7 linked regions of the Homo sapiens genome follow. The protein of the gene in region 1 interacts with the protein of each later gene in a pairwise test. Each region holds a gene or a part of one and is shown on either strand. Other genes may lie near its edges.

Evidence for each region.
Region 2: the proteins of PSMB1 (region 1) and SCARA5 interact in binary tests that used the Homo sapiens proteins (3 or more experiments, as listed by UniProt).
Region 3: the proteins of PSMB1 (region 1) and ZNF177 interact in binary tests that used the Homo sapiens proteins (3 or more experiments, as listed by UniProt).
Region 4: the proteins of PSMB1 (region 1) and THAP6 interact in binary tests that used the Homo sapiens proteins (3 or more experiments, as listed by UniProt).
Region 5: the proteins of PSMB1 (region 1) and LZTFL1 interact in binary tests that used the Homo sapiens proteins (3 or more experiments, as listed by UniProt).
Region 6: the proteins of PSMB1 (region 1) and AGR2 interact in binary tests that used the Homo sapiens proteins (3 or more experiments, as listed by UniProt).
Region 7: the proteins of PSMB1 (region 1) and KATNBL1 interact in binary tests that used the Homo sapiens proteins (3 or more experiments, as listed by UniProt).

Annotation. Positions count from the first base shown.
Region 1 is NC_000006.12:170,536,308-170,539,807, forward strand, and holds part of PSMB1 (proteasome subunit beta type-1), read right to left. Parts: intron 1,034-3,500; coding exon 927-1,033; intron 1-926. UniProt on the Homo sapiens protein: Non-catalytic component of the 20S core proteasome complex involved in the proteolytic degradation of most intracellular proteins. This complex plays numerous essential roles within the cell by associating with different regulatory particles.
Region 2 is NC_000008.11:27,870,674-27,874,173, reverse strand, and holds part of SCARA5 (scavenger receptor class A member 5), read left to right. Parts: intron 1-2,103; coding exon 2,104-2,240; 3' UTR 2,241-3,500. UniProt on the Homo sapiens protein: Ferritin receptor that mediates non-transferrin-dependent delivery of iron. Mediates cellular uptake of ferritin-bound iron by stimulating ferritin endocytosis from the cell surface with consequent iron delivery within the cell.
Region 3 is NC_000019.10:9,376,513-9,380,012, reverse strand, and holds part of ZNF177 (zinc finger protein 177), read right to left. Parts: intron 1,755-3,500; 5' UTR 1,702-1,754; coding exon 1,669-1,701; intron 1,052-1,668; coding exon 925-1,051; intron 487-924; coding exon 394-486; intron 1-393. Other genes in the region: ZNF559-ZNF177 (zinc finger protein 177), read right to left, coding at 394-486, 925-1,051, 1,669-1,701. UniProt on the Homo sapiens protein: May be involved in transcriptional regulation.
Region 4 is NC_000004.12:75,527,500-75,530,526, reverse strand, and holds the end of THAP6 (THAP domain-containing protein 6), read right to left. Parts: 3' UTR 501-3,027; downstream 1-500.
Region 5 is NC_000003.12:45,825,120-45,828,619, forward strand, and holds part of LZTFL1 (leucine zipper transcription factor-like protein 1), read right to left. Parts: intron 3,497-3,500; coding exon 3,320-3,496; intron 2,341-3,319; coding exon 2,237-2,340; intron 1,214-2,236; coding exon 1,195-1,213; 3' UTR 1-1,194. UniProt on the Homo sapiens protein: Regulates ciliary localization of the BBSome complex. Together with the BBSome complex, controls SMO ciliary trafficking and contributes to the sonic hedgehog (SHH) pathway regulation. May play a role in neurite outgrowth. May have tumor suppressor function.
Region 6 is NC_000007.14:16,795,000-16,798,499, forward strand, and holds part of AGR2 (anterior gradient protein 2 homolog precursor), read right to left. Parts: intron 2,696-3,500; coding exon 2,632-2,695; intron 21-2,631; coding exon 1-20. UniProt on the Homo sapiens protein: Required for MUC2 post-transcriptional synthesis and secretion. May play a role in the production of mucus by intestinal cells. Proto-oncogene that may play a role in cell migration, cell differentiation and cell growth. Promotes cell adhesion.
Region 7 is NC_000015.10:34,151,097-34,154,596, forward strand, and holds part of KATNBL1 (KATNB1-like protein 1), read right to left. Parts: intron 1,974-3,500; coding exon 1,694-1,973; intron 1-1,693.

The sequences.
Region 1 (3,500 bases):
ACACATAAACTGATTATAAAAAGTTAAAGTGATCTCTCAATGTTCTCCTTTGTTTTTCATTGTGTTTAGTGCGATTATTATAAACCTTAAATAACAAGTGGCCCAAACAAAGCACTATTAGTGATGCTGGAACTGCTCCCCAAGAAGCAGGGAAAGTTATGACATCACAAGAAAAAGCTGAATTGCTTGATATGTACTGTAGATTGAGGTCTGCAGCTGTGGTTGTCCACCACTCCAGACAGATGATTCTCCTTGTAAACAGATGATGTAAACTTACAGTATCAACAAATACAGTATTGTAAATGTATTTTCTCTTCCTATAATTTTCTTAATAACATTCTCTTTCCTGTAGTTTATTTATCATAAGAATACAGCACATAATACATATGTAAAATACGTGATAATCCACAGTTTACATTATTGGCAAGGCTTCCAGTCAACAGTAGGCTTATTTGTAAGTTTTCTTGGAGTCGAAAGTTATATGTGGATTTTCCAGTGCTCGGGGAACTGGCGCCCCAATCCCCGTGTTGTTCAAGGCTCAACTGTATGCTTGGGAGTTCAAGTACAGTATTGGGTAACACAGAAAGGGGGGGTAAGAGGGAAAAAGGCATTTTTATGATCTTCAGGTAAAGACAGCAAGAGAATTAGCCACTACAGACATAAAAGAGTTGGAAGCCATGAGAATACAGGAAAACAATCAAAACCATGGGAGTAGGTAAGGACCCACAAGAGAGTAGGCAGAACACAGAGAGAGACCATGAGGTTTCTGTAGGACACGTCTGCCAAACTCAAACAGTAATTTATAAGAAAGTCTTTATATCTTGGCTCTCCTAAGCTAATGAAGAGGAGAACTTGGAGGAAGGCACTTCAACTGAACACCATGACAAGTTGGACATAGTATCATTACCTGGACACAGTATCATTACCTGGTTGTCAAGCAGGGGCTGTAGCATGGCACTTGCTGAGCCTCCAGCCTTGAAGGAGTCTCTCTGGTAAGACCCTACTGGATCAAAGCTGTATACAGCCCCCTTTCCTTAAAGAAGAAAACAGTATTCATAAGGATGGTATCCAATCACAATCCCAAATCATCGCAAAAATAAATCAGGTCAAAACGTGACACAAAACGGACTATCACCTTGGCTAAAACTTCAGGGAACAGTTGGAACACAGCCACTGTTGCACTGGTGACAGCTGCAGCACACACACTGTTGCACATGTGACAGCCAGAACCCAGTCACCATTGCACAGGTGCCACCCAGCAGACAGCCCCAATCCCCGTGTTGGTGTGTTGTTCAAGGGTAAACTGTAGGCTTGGGAGTTAAAATACAATATTGAGTAACACAGAAAGGGTGGGTAAGAGGGAGAAAGGCATTTTTATGATCTTCAGGTAAAGATGACAAGAGAATTAACCACTGCAGATGTAAAACAGTTGGAAGCCATGAGAATACACAAAAATAATCCAAGCCATGGTAGTAGGTAAGGACCCGTAAGAGAGTAGGGAGAACACAGAGAGAGATGGTGAGGTTTCTGTAGGACACATCAGCCAAACTCAAACAGTCATTTGTAAGAAAGTCTTTATTTCTTGGCTCTCCTAAGCTAACGAAGAGGAGAACTTGAAGGAAAGCACGACTTATGTATATAGACAGGTCCAAGGGACACATCCGCAAGACACAGTAAAACGAAGAGAATTCTGTAACCTGTAAAATACGATACTGCTTTTGTTTAAAAGAATAAGAAAACTATTTGTACAAGCACAAAAAAGTCTGGAAAGATAAGTAACTGTGGCTGGTCATCTTTGAGCTCTGAATTAGAGGCAAGAAAAGAAGGGAATTAATTCATGTGCTTCTATCTTATTTGAGTTTGTTACAAAGAACACAGGTGATTCTACAATCGTTAAAAAGGCCTGTTAAAAACAACCGTGTTCTGGGTATGAGAAATCACGAGTCATTTACAAGGTATGATTTTTTAAAAACATAACTGATTTAGAAAACACATTATATACCAGAACTCAGTACCCTGGGAGATGTGATATAGGGACAATCTCCTTACTAACCATGTACAACTGCCACTGTTAGCTTTGTATGTTTTCTACTATAGAACTGCGTAAACTTGGCCAGGCGCGGTGGCTCACGCCTGTAATCCCAGCACTCTGGGAGGCTGAGGTGGGCCGATCACGAGGTCAGGAGTTCGAGATCAGCCTGGCCAACACAGTGAAACCCCATCTCTACTAAAAATACAAAAATTAGCTGAGCATGGTGGCACGTGCCTCTATTCCCAACTACTTGGGAGGCTGAGGCAGGAGAATCGCTTGAACCCAGGAGGCGGAGGTTGTGGTGAGCCGAGATCATGCCACTGCACTCCAGCCTGGGCAACAGAGCGAGACTTGGTCTCAAAAAAAGAAAAAGGATTGTGTAAACTGAATTCTCTGGTGGAGAAGGCACCATCTGAGGTCACCTAAGAAACTGGGAAGTATTTTTGCTGGAAGCAAGCTTGGGACAAGACATGAGATCACAGCAGGCAATCCACTAACCTCAATATACAAAAAAAGAAAGAGATGTAAGGTGTAAAGGCAGAAAAATGATTGTATCTCTCATGAGGATGACAGGCCACAAGTAAACTGAGGCCCAAAAGCTTTACCCAAGGATGGAACCAATCTCAGAAAACCACACACAACAAATTTAAAAAAATAAACCAAAGAAAGGGTGGGCTATGTCCAAGAACACAGCTTTAAAGACCCCCTAGAAGAAGCAAGAGAGACACTAGTAAAATCAGTATAAAACAGCAAAAATCAATAAATAAAAACAAAAATAAATGTAGAATGGCATGAATCTTGATTACAAAGTGCTTTTCCTCATCAAAGTAAAATCCAAAAAGCACAATCATTTCAATGTAAAAAATAAAATCAGACAAGTCTTAAAAGAAATACAGCTAAGCTTTGGATGGGAGAAGTTTTTCTAACAAGGCAAGAAACTGAATGTCATAAAGAAATGATTGACAGATTAGACTGTATGAAACACAGCAATTTCTGTGTAGCAAAAGGCACCACCCAAAAGAGACAAATAACACTCTTGGGAGTATCTATAATATCACAGACATTTGACACAGTCGAATGTAGTTCTTGAAAATCAGTAAGAAGAAAACTAACCTGCAAATAAGGAAATGGGCAACAGTTAATATATGAATCAGTCTCCAAAGAGGAAATTTATAAAGTCAATAAACATATGAAAACATGCCCAAGAATATATATAAATGAAAATAATAAACTGTTCAATAGGCAAAAAGATGTTTCAAAATGTGTTAATTCTAATACTGGGAAGGTTATATAAAATCGGGTACTCAGGGTACTGGCGTATCCTTCAGAAAGAGTATACTCAACAAAATACAAAAAAAAATTTATCTGACCCAATACTTCAACTACTCGAAGTTTATTCTAGCAAGACAAGCATAATTGGGGAAGTACACAAAAATGTATGTACAAGGATGTTCATCATAGTGTTTAT
Region 2 (3,500 bases), on another chromosome or scaffold:
CATAGAAGCTCAAACGTTAGCTCTATAAGGCAGAAATCTTTTGCATCTGTTGTTTTGTCTTTCTGTTCATCAGAATGGTACTGAGCACACAGAGGCCTCAATAATTTGGTTTTTTGCTGTTTTGTTTTGTTTTTGAGACTGAGTCTTGCTCTGTCACCCAAGCTGGCATGATCTCGGCTCGCTGTAACCTCCGCCTCACGGGTTCAAGCGATTCTCCTGCCTCAGCCTCCTGCGTAGCTGAGATTACAGGCGTGCACCACCACGCCCAGCCAATTTTTGTGTTTTTGGTAGAGACGGGGTAGAGACGGGGTTTTTAGTAGAGACGGGGTTTTGCCATGTTGACCAGGCTGGTCTTGAACTCCTGATCTCAACGATCTGCCCTCCTCAGCCTCCCAAAGTGCTGAGATTACAGGCGTGAGCCATGGCACCTGGCCAAGAGTCTGCCTTTCTTTCTTTTTTTTCTTTTTTTGGGTGAGCAACAAGGCTATTTATTTCACCTGGGTGCAGGCGGGTTGAGTCAGAAAAGAGAGTCAGCGCAGGGATTTAGGGGTGGGGCCGTTTTATAGGATTTGGGTAGGTAGTGGAAAATTACAGTTAAAGGGGGTTGTTCTCTGGTGGGGAGGGGTGGGGACATAAGGTGCTCAGTGGGGGAGCTTTTGAGCCAGGAGAAGGAATTTCACAAGGTAATGTCATCAGTTAAGGCAGGAACCGGCCATTTTTACTTCTTTTGTGATTCTTCAGTTACTTCAGGCCAGCTGGACATACATGTTTGCAGGTCACAGGGGATATGATGGCTTAGCTTGGGGTCAGAGACCTGACATTCCTGTCTTCTTATATTAGTAAGAAAAATAACATAAAATAGTGTTGAAGTGTTGGGGCAGCAAAAGTTTTGGCGGGATGGTATGGAGAGATAATGGGTGATGTTTCTCAGGGCTGCTTCGAGCGGGATTAGGGGCGGCGTGGGAACCTAGAGTGGGAGAGATTAAGCTGAAGGAAGATTTTGTGTGTCTGCTTTTCTAACAAGCTCTCTGGTGATGCTGACAGCCCTGGTCTTCAAACTGCACACCTTGAGTAATCAGCTATCAGTTCTAAAGCTAAAACAATGATTGGTACCTAGAGCTGACAGGGTTCTAGCCTCTGCCTGGTGGTGCAAGGAGCAGAGAGAGTTTGCTGGCAAATTCCTCCGGGAATGATCCCCCGCCACCGCAGTGTTGACGTCACTGCAGATATGCACTGCTCCTCCCTTGATGACCGTGTTCCCATTGTATTGGTCCTCCCGTGACTGGATGTGAACAAGAACCCCCTGGTGAAACACCAGCTAGAGTTTCAAGATCCTATATACGTATTTGGGCTGGGTCACCTTGGAACTGTTCTTTATTTGTTAGTCTTCTTTATTTGCTTTGGGTGTGACTAATCCCACAGAGCCCTGGGGCTTGCAGCCTTTTCCTGGGTAATTTGTAAACCGATGTGTCTTCCAGGAGACGTTTAATCTGCAAATCATTCTCTGCCTCAAAGGGCTTATTGTGTAAGAGCTACAGCTATCCAGGCCAGGAAGAGGCTCTGGAGAAGAAACAACATCCAAGGAGGTGGCGGAAGGGGCCTCTCCTCCCTCCTCCATCCCCGGATTCACTGCATGGCAATCCCGTGACAACAGGGGCTGAAAATGTCTACGTAACAAAAATATGTTCAAGCCACTTAGTTCATCTGTTAGAGCCAAACAGCAGGGAAGTGGTTTAAATGTTCCCTTGACATTCTTTGTAAAGGGATTTTACCCACGTACTTCAAGAGTGAATGACAGAGTTTAAGACTTTAATAGCCAGTCCTGACGCTGCCACTAAAAAGGAGAGGTTGTCCGGCTTCTGACACATAGCTGATATTTGTAGCTACTACCATCATCACCAACAATTATTGTGATTCTGCCCTCAAGAAACTAATCCCAGAAAATAAGTATGAGGTCTTCGGGGGGCGTGGAGAGGGCAGCTGGAAGCCCCTAGGTTTGAGTGTACAGCAGAGCCAAGTCAAGGGCAGGCACAGTTATGCTCTCTCTTCTCCTTCTCGCCCTCCTGTGTATCCGCTTATAGCTGTGTTTCCCTGTCTCCACAGGCACTGGGAGGATCTGGATGGATGACGTTGCCTGCAAGGGCACAGAGGAAACCATCTTCCGCTGCAGCTTCTCCAAATGGGGGGTGACAAACTGTGGACATGCCGAAGATGCCAGCGTGACATGCAACAGACACTGAAAGTGGGCAGAGCCCAAGTTCGGGGTCCTGCACAGAGCACCCTTCCTGCATCCCTGGGGTGGGGCACAGCTCGGGGCCACCCTGACCATGCCTCGACCACACCCCGTCCAGCATTCTCAGTCCTCACACCTGCATCCCAGGACCGTGGGGGCCGGTCGTCATTTCCCTCTTGAACATGTGCTCCGAAGTATAACTCTGGGACCTACTGCCCGTCTCTCTCTTCCACCAGGTTCCTGCATGAGGAGCCCTGATCAACTGGATCACCACTTTGCCCAGCCTCTGAACACCATGCACCAGGCCTCAATATCCCAGTTCCCTTTGGCCTTTTAGTTACAGGTGAATGCTGAGAATGTGTCAGAGACAAGTGCAGCAGCAGCGATGGTTGGTAGTATAGATCATTTACTCTTCAGACAATTCCCAAACCTCCATTAGTCCAAGAGTTTCTACATCTTCCTCCCCAGCAAGAGGCAACGTCAAGTGATGAATTTCCCCCCTTTACTCTGCCTCTGCTCCCCATTTGCTAGTTTGAGGAAGTGACATAGAGGAGAAGCCAGCTGTAGGGGCAAGAGGGAAATGCAAGTCACCTGCAGGAATCCAGCTAGATTTGGAGAAGGGAATGAAACTAACATTGAATGACTACCATGGCACGCTAAATAGTATCTTGGGTGCCAAATTCATGTATCCACTTAGCTGCATTGGTCCAGGGCATGTCAGTCTGGATACAGCCTTACCTCCAGGTAGCACTTAACTGGTCCATTCACCTAGACTGCAAGTAAGAAGACAAAATGACTGAGACCGTGTGCCCACCTGAACTTATTGTCTTTACTTGGCCTGAGCTAAAAGCTTGGGTGCAGGACCTGTGTAACTAGAAAGTTGCCTACTTCAGAACCTCCAGGGCGTGAGTGCAAGGTCAAACATGACTGGCTTCCAGGCCGACCATCAATGTAGGAGGAGAGCTGATGTGGAGGGTGACATGGGGGCTGCCCATGTTAAACCTGAGTCCAGTGCTCTGGCATTGGGCAGTCACGGTTAAAGCCAAGTCATGTGTGTCTCAGCTGTTTGGAGGTGATGATTTTGCATCTTCCAAGCCTCTTCAGGTGTGAATCTGTGGTCAGGAAAACACAAGTCCTAATGGAACCCTTAGGGGGGAAGGAAATGAAGATTCCCTATAACCTCTGGGGGTGGGGAGTAGGAATAAGGGGCCTTGGGCCTCCATAAATCTGCAATCTGCACCCTCCTCCTAGAGACAGGGAGATCGTG
Region 3 (3,500 bases), on another chromosome or scaffold:
GGGATCAAAGAAAAAGGGAGGGAGACCCTATGGATTTGTTTTCAAATAATATCTTCTAAGTAGAGAAATGTAAGAAAGAAGACACAACCAGTGATTCACCAGTGATAGGAACAAGCAGTAGAAATGGGAGGTATTTTAGTTAGAAAGGATTGTGGAGGTTGGGAAATAAGACAGTATTATCTGGCAAAAAGCATTCATGGAGACATTACATTTAAAGAGGAATTAAAACTTCTTTCTCGGAGACCAAATGAACGTATGAACGATTGAATAGATGGTGAAACAGGAAGGAAGCTCATGTCATGGCCTCAGATTTCTTTTCCTTCACTGAGTGACATTCCCAAATGTACTAACCCTCACTGGCCAAGGCTGCACCCTGTTCTGCCCAAGGCTCACCTGCACAGTCACCTTGTAAAATTCCTCTTTCATCTGTCTTCAGCTGTTCTTGATCCACCTTGGAGATCAGACTGTGTCTGCAGAGCTGATACCCTGCTCACGCAGAAAGCAAGGATGTGGGAGAAATGTGTGAGAATTAAATATTCCACAAAACTGATTGCCATACTTTGGCTTTAACTAAAGGATTATTAAAATAGTCAAGTGCAGCTTTAGGAACAACAAAACAATCAGAGCCGAGCTCTTTCTTTCACAAGAACCAAAAAGCATGGTCCACGCCCTATATGGAAGTGACCCTTGAAACCTATACACAAGATGAGACACAGATTGCAAATTACCTTAAGCTATTAGTGATAGAGAAAATGAAATCAGTGCATTTTCATGGGAAGCCACTGGACTGCCCCCTCAAGGGCAGGGACCATTCATTTTGGGGTTAACCACTGTATTGCTATTCTTTCCACAGATTCTGGAACATAATATGTGCTTAAGAACTATTTGCTACATAAACAAATGAAGAAATGAGGCCAGCCTTACCTACTGAGGCCAGGTTCCTAAAGTTCTCCAGCATCACATCTTTGTATAGATTTTTTTGAGCAGGGTCCAGCAATGCCCACTCCTCCTGGGAAAAGTCCACTGCCACTTCCTGGAAGGTTACTGAGTTCTAAAACATCACATACATATTCTGGCTCAGCCAATGACCATTTTTGACAATGTACCAGGAGAATGGTGGGTGAGGCTGACAGGACTGGAGAGGAGACTCAGGGCACTGGAAGCTCAGACATGCATCAGAGGCCTTCTCTTAATTTGCCTTAAAGCTGAGTTCTCAGAACTCTCTTTAAATCCTACTCCCTGGGCCATCTCATTCAGGGTCATGGTCAAAACAGCTTTTCTAAAATATGGTTGGCTTGATCTTTGCACAGTTAGGTTGTGAGGACTCTTTTCGTCTTATTCAGATCCAGTATAGACAGGGCATACTGTAGGAATGCAAGAAATACTTGAGAAATGATAAATAATTTTCCTAGTAAAAGTCTTTCTTTACAGCACTCACTACAGTATGGAATTCATACTCAAAAATATGGAAGAATATCTGGAGAAAGTTAACAAATGTGGGAACAGAAGCCTTTCCCAGGGATTCCCTCTTCCACATGAAGCAGCCTGGGAGCTGCGGAAGATGAAGCCAGCTCAGATTGGGCTGTGAAGCTTCAGGTCAGGGGCAAGAGATGTGTTCTTTTCAGGAATGGCAGTGTGCTTTTGGAAATAGAGAAATTTCTTGTGTACCTGTGACCAGGTTGTCAGCCACCCTGCAGCCATTCTTCCTCCTGTAGGTTTCCTTCCTGGCTGGGCAGAGTCCTAAGCAGGCAGAGCTAGAGGAGAACACAGAAGCCATTAGAGTCTAGGCCTGCTAGATGTTCAACACTAGCAGGCTGGGAAGCTTCTTCTTACTAAAGGGTAACAACATACACATAGAGTGTAGTTACAATTTGCCTCCTTATCCAAGAACACAGTATATCCTCAAATTAGAAATATAGTATGCATTTTTCATTTTTTCTTGGACTTTTTTCTAGCCTGAACCACTAAAAAGGCTTATGACTGCTAACAGCTCAGGAGGAATGAGCCTCTAAAGTGCAAAACTGTCTCTGAATATCATTTACCCGTGACAGAAACCAGGACTCACTGGAGAAATAGCTGAGTCTAGTATAGACTAAGAAATCTTCAAGATGAGTTTGGAATATCTTATATCACACCCTCACGTTCCTCATTGTTAGAATGGGACCAATTTCATAGGGTTGGGCTGAGTTAATATCCCGAAATTACTTAGAACAATAAGGAGTAACTCATAAGGACCATAAAGGTGAGCATATTTGCATTTCATAATAAAAGGGTGACATTCCAGAACAACATTTAGTACACTTAGCTGTATATGTATCAAAATCTAGTGCTGCAAATCTTATAGCAGAGCTAGGACTCTGTCTTCTTAACTCAGTAGCCTACCTTCCAGGCCCTTTTTGCCTGCCCGATTTTACTTTTTAAACTTTTTTGTTGTAAACGAAGACACATACGCATTAATCTAGGCCTAAATAGGGTTAGGATCTTGAGTATCACTGTCTGACACCTTCTACCGTGTCCCACTTAAGGTATTCAGGGGCAATAACATGCACGGAGCTGACATCTCCTATGGTGACAATGACTTCTAGAATGTCTTCTGAAGCATCTGCTTGAGGCTTGTTTTTGAGTTAACTTTTCTTTTTTAGTAAGTAGAAGGAATACATTCTAAAATAACAATAAATAGTATAAAAATATATAAACCAGTAATGTGGTCACTTATTACTATTCATTATTATGTACTGTATATAATCTACTGTACATAACCATATTTACTACTGTTACATGACTGGCAGTGCAGCAGGTTTAAATGACAGACATGTGAGTAATGTGCTTTACAATGTTACACTGGCTATGTCATTAGGTGATTGGAATTTTTTAGCACTATTAAAATGTTATGAGAGCACTGTCACATATGTGGACCATCACTGACCAAAATGTCTTTACACAGTGCATGACTGTACTGCCAACCAAGAATGTTTTACCTGCCAAAAATGGCCTTCAGAAATGAAGGAGAGATAAAAACTTCCTTGGACAAACAAAAGATGAGGGGCTTCATCAGTAATGGAGCTGATTTATAGGAAATAGTAAATTCTTCAGCTTAAAAGAAAGGACACTTAGTAACATGAAACCATATGAAATTATAAAACCCACTGGGGTAAAGGTAATTATATACTCAATCCAGATTACCCTAATACTGTAACAGTGGTATCTAAATAACTTATCTCTAGTGTAAAAGATTAAAAGATAAAAATATTAAAAAGTTATAATAATTTGTTAATATACAATATAGAAAGATGTAAATTGTGACATCAAAAACATAAAATGTGGGAAATGGAAGAGTATAAATTGTTTGTATGCAATCAAAGCTAAGCTGTTAACAGCTTAAAACAGACTATTAAAACTACAGGATGTTTTAAGCTTCATAGTAGCCACAAAGCAAGAACCTATATTATGGAGAAAAGAGAAAGAAATCAAAGCGTATCACTACAGAAAGTCATCAAATC
Region 4 (3,027 bases), on another chromosome or scaffold:
AGTTAATTGGAGGCCTTGATAAAGCACATGTGCTCCAGATGGTGAGATAAAACTTATGAAATTCAGGGGCCTATAAACATCAGTAAAATTTTGGGGGAGAAGTATCCAGTGATCTGCGGCATGCTAAGACATCCCCTCTAAAGTAAGAGACAAGTTATTTACAACCTGTATGTTCCACTATGAAGAAGAAAGCACAATGCCTGACAGGCCTCTTTGGGTTCTAAAGGCAGCATATTTCACACCTAGGAATGCTGCTCTCCTTTATATACTGGGTGACATCATATCTGACAGTTTTGAGTGAGGGCCAATGCAGAAAAGGGCTCTATGATAGGTCCATATTGTGCTGAAAGCTGGCCTGCTACGTGGGTCATCTAACCTTGCAGACCCCATATTAGAGTTATTGGTGGAGGAGAAATTAGAGCAAAACCTCTACGTACGTACTCTTCATTTTTCTCTGCCCATTTTATTGAATAACTCAATGTATAAAACCACATAACACATTACTGGATAAAATGTTTTATTTTTCAAATAAATTATAATAGATTTTCTCTCTCTCAATTATTTCTGTAATAATTTTATCTTTTTATTAAAACTAAATATATATTAAATACATTTCACCTTTTCTCAAATTACAGACTATGGTATAACTGTAATTGTCATTAGCAACCAAAGTCTATTTCCAGAAATTTAAACTTGATATAGAGAAAAATTCCACGTATCAAGCGCTTCGTACCTGACTTGGTGCTGAGGTTGAACTGTTGTATTAATGTGTTCCTGGCTCTAGAGGCCACTCCTAGCTTTTAAAGCAAAGTGGAACCCTTAGGGTCAGGCTTGGCTGCCAGAGAAATTTCTGGAGGGGGATGACTTGGGTTTTGCTTTACACAGGCCAGTTCTTTCCTGGGCTAGGGTGGAATCTCTGGGAACAGAGGACTGAGATACATACTGTGTTTAGGCATTTGTTTGGAGCAGCAGGGAGGACCCTATTTTTAATCTCACATTTCTATCAGTAATTGCTTCCCTATTAGAACAAAGAGAAAATGGGCAGCTCTGGGTCCTTAATGATACCAATATTTTGCACACAGTTATTTATTTCTCAGTTATACTAGGTCCAGTGAAAAAGAAGTGCTGAGTCTACTATGAACACAAGTAGTAAAAGTGACTGTGGCAATTTTGATAGTGGCAGACTGGGATTTTACTCTTGGAAAGGTCTTCCAGGTTTGGTGTATTCTAAGCAGCCAGTAGAGTGCTAGAATTTAGACATACTGTGTTTGGATCTACCCTCTTACTTACTCCATTGTCTTACTTTAATTTATATATTCACAAATAGGGTGAGGGAAAAATAATCTCTATTGAAAACATCTCCATAAAACCTAAGATCATACCCAAACTTTCCATTAGGGTGGCCATTTATGAACTCAAAATTAAGTAACTAAAATAAATAATGGGTAATTAATGAAAGTAGTTTTGTTTTTTTGAGATGGAGTCTTGCTCTGTTGCTCAGGCTGGAGTGCAACGGCGTGATCTTGGCTCACTGCAATCTCCGCCTCCCGGGTTCAAGCAATTCTCCTGCCTCAGTCTCCCAAGTAGCTGGGATTACAGGCACGTGCCACCATGCCCGGCTAATTTTTTTTTGTATTTTTAGCAGAGATGGGGTTTCACCATCTTGGCCAGGCTGGTTTTGAACCCCTGACCTCAAGTGATCTGCCTGCCTTGGCCTCCCAAAGTGCTAGGATTACAGGTATGAGCCACCACCCGGCCTTTTTTTTTTTTAACTACCTTTTTACTACTTTTTTTTCAGATTGTAAAAAGATATGGCCTCAGTGATTTCCTCTTAGCATAACGCTGATCTCGCAGATGTGGGTTAAATCCCATTTAGAGGGAAGGTTTGGAATCCTACATAAAAGTATAACATGCATTAAAACAGAAAATTCTTAAATACAAAAAATTCAAGTGACCATATCTTAACTAATATTAATGTAACAAAAATAAAATTACAATAAACAACTGAGCACAAAATGCAATTCAATTTTTGTTACTACAATGAAATGGCTGATACTCAAATTCTAACTGCTACAACATGGACTTCTGAATGAGGTCCATGTATGTACATGTGCTTCTAAGTAGAGTGTTGCTTTGGCAAATGGTTTTTATTCTAACCCACAGTATTTATGACTCTCAATTTCAGTTGTTTTCGGTAAGGAATTATGACAAAAGCTAAATTTATGAGACTTGGATCAATTAGGAAATAACAAGGAATTATTCTTTTGCATATTCAGTAAGAAGCTATTCTAAAGCTGCTGTTTTAATTACCCGTTTCTCTAAATAAAAGCCTTTGGACAATAATCTACTCCCCTAATTAAAATATTCTAATCCTTTCTCTCCAATTCCTATTTCAACTGGAAGAGCCACAGTTATTAATTTCTAATGGTTTCTTTTGTATTTTGTATTTTTTTAAAATGTCAGCAATACTACTTTACATATAAAATACAAAGCAGTATTAAAAGTATAGAGCTAGTACTGCCATTCAGATTTTAAACATATACCTTTATGACGAAATAGTCATGAAGCAAAGTGTTCAGATCTGTCAGAGCAACCAACCATTTAAAAATCAGATCTACGATCCTTTTTGTCTTTTTAAAGCTATTCTGGTTTACATCAAAGTGCTCCTAGTGAGGAGGAATGATGTACTGTACTGAAAACTGAGACTTCATGAGGGGTCTTCTTAAATTGGCTGTGAACAATTTTAAAAGCCCACAGATCTTCACTATGTGTTATTCTCAGAGTCAATACCACAGGAAGCCTTGTAAAAAGATCCTTTGGTACTACTGATAGCTAAAGCACCTTGGATTGAATCCAAGATGGATATGCATTACAAATGAATTGTGCTTTGTAGTAAAATGCATTTAAAGTAAAATTCAATGTACTTACCATAAAGCACATGTAAGTAAAGGTACTCCTTTGAAGCCAAATATCTGGAGAAGTGTCCAATTCCTTCTACTATAGCTTAATGTGACTAATTTGACATCA
Region 5 (3,500 bases), on another chromosome or scaffold:
GTAAACTCGTTTCTTGGAATAAAATCTTCATTTGTGGAAATGGAATGATGTCTCTTAGTAGACAGTGTTCATTTAGGGTGTGATACTCTCACTTTTAGAAGCAGGAAAAATTACTAAATATTAATATGTGAAAAGTAAGGACTTTCCTTCTGAGGGATTATTGCTTTATGGACTTGACTTTGTTTATCCTTATAGTATATCACTGCCTTACATAACTGTGGATATGATGCCCAGTTTCTAATGATTTGTCCAAAATCGTCTGAGAAAACCAGGCCAATACAAATATAGTGAAAACCTCTTGAAAATACAATTATTATAGACCCACATAAATAAAGTCTAATCTGAAGTCTGATAGCTGATTTTATGTTGAATATACGTCTTTTAAAAAGTGTTCTTATTGAACATAAAATGTAAAATAACATTCTGGAAACAAGTATAAATATTACATTTATTCTGAGTCCAGATACTTTCTAAACTGTAGAAGTGCAGGATGGATTTGACTTATCCATTAGTAATACAGACTCATGAAAAGTTATGCTGCAAAAAATGCTGAACCTCCTCTGATAAATGATCTTTAAGATGGAGAGACTGAGGAAGCTAAGTGAATGTTCATGTTCACTGCTGTAAATTTTCCTTATAATTGGTAAAAAGGCTACCCATAATAGAATTCACATTTTCAATGAATTTATAGTTTATCATCAAATAGAGTAAATGAATTAAGATTTCATTTTTAAAAATAAAGAGACATATTTATTTGTAATAACTCTCTTTTTTTGGTAATAACTATCTTTAACAATGCTATTATTTATTTTTACCCATGGGGAATGCATAAGTACAAACATTGTTAGCTTATTTAACATTTATTAAAAATACAGACTCTTTATACTAATGCAGAAGGATAAGCCTCTTCTTCCCACTCTAAAAATCTCTTCTTTGCTGTAAAGAATTCTCAGTGCATGTGAGCTAAGACTCTGGAGCACTCAGTAGAGAGGTGTGTGGGATGACCAGACAGAATCACTAGGTTTTCTCTGTTTTCAACTAGCTGAAAATAGGAACTCTAGTTCTAAATATTCAAAGTCTAAATATTAGAAAAATAAGGAGAGGGGATATGACAAAATGCTTTTCAAAATACATGCCTGAGGTGAGACTGCTTGTATGTTTGCATGTGGTAGCTTCCAGAGGAAATCTTCAGTTTTAATCTTCAGGTTCATATCTGGAGATATAAATTAAGAACACAATGTCAGGATACCTTTTGTTGTTGTTATTACCAAATAAGTTTACTTGAAGCAGTGGCACTATATTTCTCACTTCAAATTACTGTTACGGTAGAAGTTGGACACATTCAACTTTGTTTTGATGGTGACTCAGAGGGGATTTTTACATCAGGTAGGAGGATAGGCCAGATCACTGCTAAGGCTCCAAGTCTGTATATTTGGCATTTAGACCTGTGATAACTTCATATAATTACCTCAATCATCATGTTGACAAGAACAGTTGATACGACTATATGAGTAAAGGGCTAGCAAATCTACTTCTCTAAGGACAAATCTCACCTTGAATTCCCTTTCTAGCTCTGCTCCCCTGGAACTCTGATAAAGGTAAAATGTCAACTCAGTTTCCAGGCAAAACATCTGATGACCACATCTGGACCTGGAGGACTATGAATGAACTATAAATACATGGTGGGAGCCACCACTTTAGGTTTCCCCCTGTGCGATGAGTTCTTTTAACTGGACATACCCTTAACTGGGTATCATGTGACTGCTAAGAGAGATACTAATCCTATGTAGAACACGGACTTCTAAGCCAAGCTGGCTATGACACCCATCTGCATGAATCTCATTCTCTCCAACTTAAACTGTCATTTAGGGGAACAGTAAGACCAGTTCTTGGACTGCTTAGAGTATACCACCAAGGAGAAGAGAACTACCTAATGCTGCCCTGCGAGCTTGCTGTGTTTCCTGTCTGACATCCTGCTAAGTGAATCCATTGCCAAGAGCAGCTTACTGTAGGCCTGTGTGAGTCTAAAGGCCTAGATGAACCTAAAAAGAAGCCCTGGTGGGCATTATAGATAAGGTCAGGCCAGAGCTCCTCCACTTTCCTCAAATGAAGGCTTCTGGACTAAATGATCCAGCAACTACCACCGGCTTGACCTCTCTGGAACAAGCTTAGATTTAACAGAGAACAAACATCAATCCAGAGAGAGAAATCCAAAGGCGGGATCAGTGTGGCTTACTGTGCCAGTCTTTTCCTCAGATCTTTGATTTGGTCATTCTTCTTGGTAAGAATCTCTTTCATGTTTCGATAAGCTGCTGTTTGCTGAAATTTCTTTTCTAATTCCTGCTTAGTAAAAAATGTCAGCCCATTACTAAAAAAATAGTTAAGGAAAGAGATAACAAATGCGATAAAAATATGTAGTTTTTTTTGCTTGAATTTTACTAGTATTTTGCTAATGATTTTCTAATTTCCTTAAAGGACACATTTATATAAAACTAAGACTATCCAAACTTTAAAAATATATTCTTTCAAATGAGAAGCCATAAAATAGTAACATTTTCCCAAGTACAGTGTTGGTAAATAACTCAAGCCCTGGATATGATAAATCTATTTGAAATATTAAACTAATTTTCCTGTAAAATAAGCACACTTTTTTCCCAAGTCCCATAGTAGTGTATTTTAGCAAAATGATTTTTAATTTAGTTAAATTTTAGCTCCCATATTCTTTTTTCCCATTTTTTATATGAAAAAATTTTTAATTTTTTTATAGAGATGGGGGTCTTGCTATGTTGGCCAGGCTGGTCTTGAACTCCTGGGCTCAAGCAATCCTGCCATCTTGGCCTCCCAAAGTGCTGGGATTACAGGCACAAGCCACTGCACCCGGCCTCAACTCCCATATTCTTAAGAGTCTAATCCCCAAAGTGAAGAATCTAGCTCTCTACATATTTTATATAAATTATGACAAAAGTATAGAAGTCCTTAAAAAAAACAGTCCCTCATCCCTCTGCAGGCTGTGGGAAGAAGGAGCAGAAGAGCAACATGGTGGGATGTAGGGCAGGATTCAAGCCACCTACAGAGGAGCATTTCACTACACCATAGAGGGAGAGGAGATGTCTTATTATCACAGATATTTTAGTACCAAAGATGGAAGAATATCAGTGCCCGGAAATGATTAATCTTTAGAACATATTGGCTAATACCTTGAGAAAAAATAATCTGAATTTGCAGTTGTCCAACGTTTATCTTAGCCACATGTATTCCTCTATACTGTGTGCATTAATCATGCATTAACAGACAAATCCCTTAAACATGGTCTTCTGACCTTTTCAGCCATGTGCAGCTGCTCCTGAACCCTGAGTAGATCGTGCTTGGCTGTCGCCAGATTCTCCTCCAGTGACTTCTGGTTTTCTGTCTTGTCATTAAGTGTCTTCTGAAACTCACTCTTTAAGGCAGCGACAGTGTTTTCTAAGTTACTTAAGTCTTGGGCCTTTATAAAATCCTAT
Region 6 (3,500 bases), on another chromosome or scaffold:
TCTAACTGTCAGAGATGGGTCTGCAAAGATAAATGAAGCAAAAGGGAATGGAATGGTTTGTTTTCAAACAACCTGTATTTATTGCCCCGGGGAGCTGAAGTTCATGTATTCATGTCCTGTGAGGGAATGGAGTGTGTCTGCACTCACAGGAGCTCTGATCCATCCACTCTACTACCCAGCCCCTGGCAGTTAGTAGCAAATGCAGGGCTGGAAACATCAACAGCTGTGCAGTGCTATTTGTGGAAAAGGTTATGAACCCTTCTGTTCTATCTATGGCAACCTGAAAACAGAATAATATATATTTAGGGGTGACATGGTGTTTTTTTTTTTTTTGGTGAAAACATTAACATTCTCTACTGCAAAATTATTTTAAATTCTTGAAACGATTATGTTGTAGTTTACATGTTTCTAGATCATTGGAAACCCACATCCAATGCTAGTTTTCAAAACGAGTTTTTTAAAAAAAGTTAATAGAGGAATGCAAGTCCTTAACAACAGCAAAGTTCAAATAAGCATATAGTACCTTCACTATATTTTACTTTATTGTTAATTAACTGCATTTTTAAAAGTAGAGATTGGTCTTCTCTTATGTATACTTATATCCCTCTAAATTTAAATCCATCTTGCCATGTTTTGTATTTAACTTGAAGTGATCTAATTAATGAGAAAAAGAGGTATTTTAAAATTAAGGTGCATCCAAAAGGGAAGCGTGAGGATACAGAGAGATCTGGAAACCTTGCCTTGAGAGACGTAATCGAAAGAACCTAGGACACGTGCCCTGAAAATGAGACAAGGAAGACATGTGAGAACCATCTGCATGTTTGCAAAGTCTGTCGCTGGTACTGGAGTGGGCAATCTGTCATTTCAGAATGTTGGACTAAGGCCAGACACATAAATTACAAGAAGCAGATGTACATTTATTCACCAGATTTAAGACCAACTATACTTCTGTTTGGTGCAGAGGATACAAAGACACGGTCTAATCTTTGTAAGAAATTAACCTAAGAAGGGCTTTTTAAATACCCAACTAGCAGCTCACCTGGCTGCACATTGGAATCATCTGGAGAGCTGTAAACACTATGGATGCCTGCCTCCCACCCCCAGAGATTCTGATTTAATTGGTTTGAGGTGTGGCCTGGGCAACTTGATCTTTAAAATCCTCCAGGTGATTCAAACATGTAGTCAGGGTGGCTACTACGGAGCTAGAAGAGCAAGCTGCCTTGGAGCTGGTTCTTAGGACTGAAGGAATTGAATGTGGGTTAAAATGCCCTTCCACAGGGATGCTGTACAAAGAATTCCTGTACAAGGTATGAACAGACATCTATAAATTCCCTTTTAATGTTAGGATTCCAAATGTCCTAAATTCTGACAAAACTAAACCTATAAAATTAGTGCTTTAGTTCAGCCTTCTTCCTTTTTTTCTATTTCTTGTTTTTCTTTTCCCTGCTTTGTACATTCAGTGTAAACTTTTAATGAATTACACAGGTGAATCATATGATTAGCATGAATTGTTGTAAGTGATGGATTTCATTATGGATTGTCCTTAAATCAGTATGACTTTGAACAAAGCCAAACTCAGTACATTCATTCAATAATTAAACACATATTGATGGAGAGCCTACTGCAGGGTCACGTTGGGAATATCATGGTGAGCAGAAATAGGTACAGTCCCTGCCATAGGGGCTTATAGTCCAATGTGGGAAATATTTATTACATAACCACCCCCAAACTGCAAAATTATACCTGAGGAAAGTATGACTACAAGAGCACATAGTAGGGATTTGACTCGGTCAATGAATAATGATGATTGGGGAGTTAATGATGTGAAATTGGGGGACAGAGAAGGAAGTGGGGAAAGCATATGAAAAGTACCAGTGGCAGGAAGGAGCATGTGGCTCCTTTCATTTCTTTTTCCCACCTCATATTCCTTTTTTTTTTTTGAGACAGAATCTCGCTCTGTTGCCCAGGCTGGAGTGCAGTGGTGCCATCTCGGCTCACTGCAACCTCTGCCTCTTGGGTTCAAGCAATTCTTGTGCCTCAGCCTCCCAGGTAGCTGGGATTACAGGCTCCTGCAACCACGCCTGGCTAATTTTTTTTTTGTATTTTTTAGTAGAGATGGGGTTTCACCTTGTTGGCCAGGCTGGTTTGGAGCTCCTGACCTCAAGTGATCTGCCGGCCTTGGCCTCCCAAAGTGCTAGGATTACAGGCGTGAGCCACCCAGCCTTATTCCTAACTTTCTTAAAAATAATGATAAAAAATGTCAGAAAAATCTAACACACAAAGTGAAAGTTTGCTGGATTAAAAAATAAATATTTGCAGGCCTCTCGTATTCAGGAAATTTATCAATATGTTTAAATAGTGAATAGGGTGCTTTGTTCTCAGAAGTATTATAGCAGAAGATGAAAAGTTACAATTAGCATGTGAGAAAAGAAAGTGTTGTGTGGAAATAGGTAAAAGCTCACATTTTCTAAAGAAAATATGTTGCGGAACTTAAAGGAATGTCATGCTCCTTGCTAGAGCTTAGTGATGACATTGGCCATGGCAACGTGGCAAGGGACAGTGGGGAGGAGAGAAGGAGGATGGCAGCACTAGTATGTGTTTCCGAGTTATCTCACTGTCACTTCCGCTTACCAACAAACATAATCCTGGGGACATACTGGCCATCAGGAGAAAGGTGTTTGTCAGTTGTTTCATACTAAAATAAAAAGAAAAGCATCTTTTAGTTTACTTTGACTTTTCAGTCGTTTTCAAACTTGTTAATACAAGAATCTGTCCATTTCCGGCCAGGCATCTCAAGATATCATAACTCTTCCACACAGAGTTTATTGTACAGATGAGGAGACAAGTTACAAGCATGAAATAATAAATAAGATAGAGCAGAACATGAGATAAAGTGCTGAATGGATGTGATAAAGAGCAAAAAAATTAAGGGAGAATTTGGAAGGAGTTACTGTGTTTGGGGAAGACATCTGGGATGAAATAAGAGGCTATTAAGGAAAAAAGCAGATGTCATTTCTAGAGAAATTACGGAGACAAGTACGGGATTTTCTTGAGTATTCATTTATCCATTTATCAATTTTTATTTAGAACTGTATTTAGCAAGGCATGGTGCTTATCTTTAATGAATGCACACTCTATTGAGAGATACAGGTAGGAAAATGAATATTGAGGATGCAGTGGGTGAAATGTTACGGTGTAGGATATGCAGGTTTGGTGATTGCCTTGAGCAAGACATTTAGCCCAGAATGCAGATTCCACCCCGACTAGGACTTTCTGAAGTGGATAAGGAGGAATCTTTACAAATGAACAGGAGTCAGTTAGGTGGAAAAGAAAGACACTTCATGCAGGGGGAAGAGTATGGAGAGGACAGGTGGAGCATTTTCTCCTATGGCCAAGTGCTGGGGAAGGACTGAGTTGGGGGGATGCACGAGGGCAGTGGCGAAAGAAGGTGCTAGAGCTGCTTCAGGGGCCGGCTTAGGAATGACTTTGCACACCATGCC
Region 7 (3,500 bases), on another chromosome or scaffold:
ATGTTTTATATTCCTTTGGGTATATATCCAATAATAAGATTGTTTTAAGTTCTTTGAAAAATTGTCGCACTGCTTTCACAATGGCTGAAACTAAATTACATTGTCACCAGCATTGTATAAGTGTTCTTTTTCCACAACCTTGCCAGAATCTATTATTTTTTGACTTTTTAATAATAGCCATTCTAACTGGTATGAGATGATATCCTGTTGTGGTTTTGATTTGCATTTCTCTAATGATGAGTGATTTTAGGTTTAGCATTTAGGCTGAGCATTTTTTCATATGCTTGTCACCTACATGTATGTCTTCTTTTGAAAAGTGTCTATTGTGTCCTTTGCCTACTTTTTTTTTTTTTTTTTTTTTTTTTTTTTTTTTGAGACAGAATCTCACTCTGTAACCCAGGCTGGAGTGCAGTGACAAGATCTTGGCTCACTGCAACCTTTGCCTCCCGGGTTCAAGCAATTCTTGAGCGTCAGCCTCCCAAGTAGCTGGCATTACAGGCGTGCACCACCACGCCTGGGTAATTTTTGTATTTTTGGTAAAGATGGGGTTTTGCCATGTTGGCCAGGCGAGTCTTGAACTCCTGACCACCTGCCTTGGCCTCCCAAAGTGTGCCACCATGCCTAGCTAATTTTTGTATTTCTAGTAGAGATGAGGTTTCGCCATGTTGGCCAGGCCCAGTTTTAGAATATTTCTATCACTCTCAAAAACGCTTTTGAGTCTGTTAACCAGTTTTGCTTGAGCCAGAAGAGCAGCAAACCACAGCAGGTTTGCCTGAACTATGCTTTAACCAGGCAATATTGAGAGCCCGGCAAAATGTGTCTGGATAACTGGCTTCGGTGGTCCACTTTTTTTTTTTTTTTTGAGATGGAGTCTTGCTCTCTTGCCCAGGCTGGAGTGCAATGGAATGATCGCGGCTCACTGCAACCTCTGCCTCCCAGGTTCAAGTGATTCTTCTGCCTCAGCCTCCCAAGCAGCTGGGATTACAGGCACCCACCATCATGCCCGGCTCATTTTTGTACTTTTGTAGAGACAGGGTGTTTCACCATGTTGCCCAGGCTGGCCTCGAACTCCCGACCTCAGGTGATCTGCCTGCAGATGTTGTCCTTTTTATTTTTATTTTTTTGAGACGGAGTCGCTCTGTTGCCCAGGCTGGAGTGCAATGGTGTGATCTCAACTCACTGCAACTTCTGCCTCCCGGGTTCAAGCGATTCTCCTGTCTCAGCCTCCTTCTGAGTAGCTGGGATTACAGGCGCCCCCCACCATGCCCGGCTAATTTTTGTATTTTTAGTAGAGGCAGGGTTTCACCATGTTGGCCAGGCTGGTCTCAAACGCCTAACCTCGTGATCCACCCACCTCGGGCTCCAGGCGTGAGCCACTGTGTCCGGCCTAGTGCTCCACTTTTTTAGGCAAGATTTCTCCTTTTCCCTTCCTTTAAATCTCTACTGGCTAACTTGTCATTCTGGATAGTTTTAGCAGCCTGCTAAGCATTTCATCCCATCTTAGAGAAATGGAATAAATTATTAATTCAAATTTGGTTAATCTAGAAAATTGTCTCAGGGAGTTACTATGACTCAAATAAGTCTACATTCAATAGGTGACAAATTATTCTGCTAGTGGAATATGGCAAAGAAAAAAATCAAGATTATAACAGGAACAAAGTTAAACTAGATATGAGTTAGAGAAAAGACTTACCTCAGAAAAAAACCCACTATATTTTGATGATGGGCTTTCTGTCTGTGAAGAACCAGAATCACTGGAGTTAACCAAATATGTTCGACTATCATGGTGTAATTTTTCAGGCAGGTGGCCTGCACAAGCCAGTTCATTTTCTTTATTTGCCATGTCACAGCCCCCACTTCCAGGGGACTGTTTTTTTCTGTAACAAGGATTTGGAAAGGGATGATGAACTTTCTTTCTGCGATAGATCACTTTACGAAGTTTATCTGGGCTTTTCACAGTTTGTCCAACTGTTCTGTAAAAAGAATTTATTTTCTTAAATGAAAAAGAACCATATGAAATCCTTTAAAAGTTTTTAAACAGAGAATTAATAGGCTATATTTGGTGATTGTAATCCACTAAAATTAGAAATAAATAGAATTTTAAAAATCTTAATTCTGAGTTGAAGAGAAAAGTAAAAGGGAAATTACAAATTATCTGGAAGACAATGTAAAGGATGACATTTTATGCCAAATAAAAATGAAGACAGACATAATAACCAGAATGCTTTTAAAAATGAAATATTAAAGGCCATTCTGGGAGTAAGAAGACCACAACATTTTCTAGAAACCTGATCTTTTTCTAACAAAGTGGCAAATAAGACTGCAAGTGTGAATATTTTAAAATTTAATTAAGCTGAAGTATATTGATTTATTTGAGTAAGAACACGATAGAGCAAGCCTCATCGTTTAATACAGTGGTTCTCAAACGTTTTAGTGTCACGATGCTTTGCTCTCTTAAAAATAATTAATGACTCAAAAATTTTTTTTTTTTTTGAGATGCAGTCTCTCTCTGTTGCCAGGCTAGTGTGCAGTGGCACAATCTCAGCTCACTGCAACCTCCACCTCCCAGGTTCAAGTGATTCTCTTGCCTCAGCCTCCTGAGTAGCTGGGACTACAGTCGCGCGCCACCATGCTGAACTAACTTTTGTATTTTTAGTAGAGACAGGGTTTCACCCTGTTGGCAAGGATGATCTTGATCTCTTGACCTCATGATCCACCCACCTTGGCCTCCTAAAGTGCTGGGAATACAGGTGTGAGCCATGGCCAAAATAATTTTTATGTGAATAGTATCTATTGATATTTACTGTGTAAAAACTAAAACAAAATTTAAATCATTTGTTAATTCATTCAAAAAAAGACTAATTACATATTAACATGGAATATCTTACCCAAAACCCATATTTTCTAAAATAATTTTTTAAAAAGTGAGAAGAATGGTACTGTTTTACATTTTTATATATCTCTAATATCTGGTTTAACAAAAGACAGCTGGGTTCTCATTTCTGCTTCTCCATTCAATCTACTGTGATATCAAATGGCATATAGCTTCTTGAAAAATTATATTGTACCCTCAAACAAGAGAATGAAAATGAAGACAGTCAATGTCTTAGTATTGCTATGGAAGTAATTCTGACTTCACAAATTCCATGAATGGTCTTTAGGGACCCGCAGGTCCTCAAATCACACTTTGAAAACCAGTCGTTTTGTAGAAAGTGCCTTTAGAAGTTAGGCAGATCTGAGAATGAATGTCATTCTTACCACTTTTCTAGCTATATGATTCTGAACAAATCATTTAACTTATCTGATCTTAAGTTTTCTCATCAACTGTTAGGGTTAATGTTATCTATAGAGTAGGCTATAGAGTAGGACTGTTGTAAGGAGCAGAGACAATATTGATGTGTTTATTAGTGCAGATACTGGCATAAAGAAGCTGTTTGACAATAAGTTAATTATTATTATGATAAAAGAATGCTTATTTTTCCCTTATTGTCATCCTTACC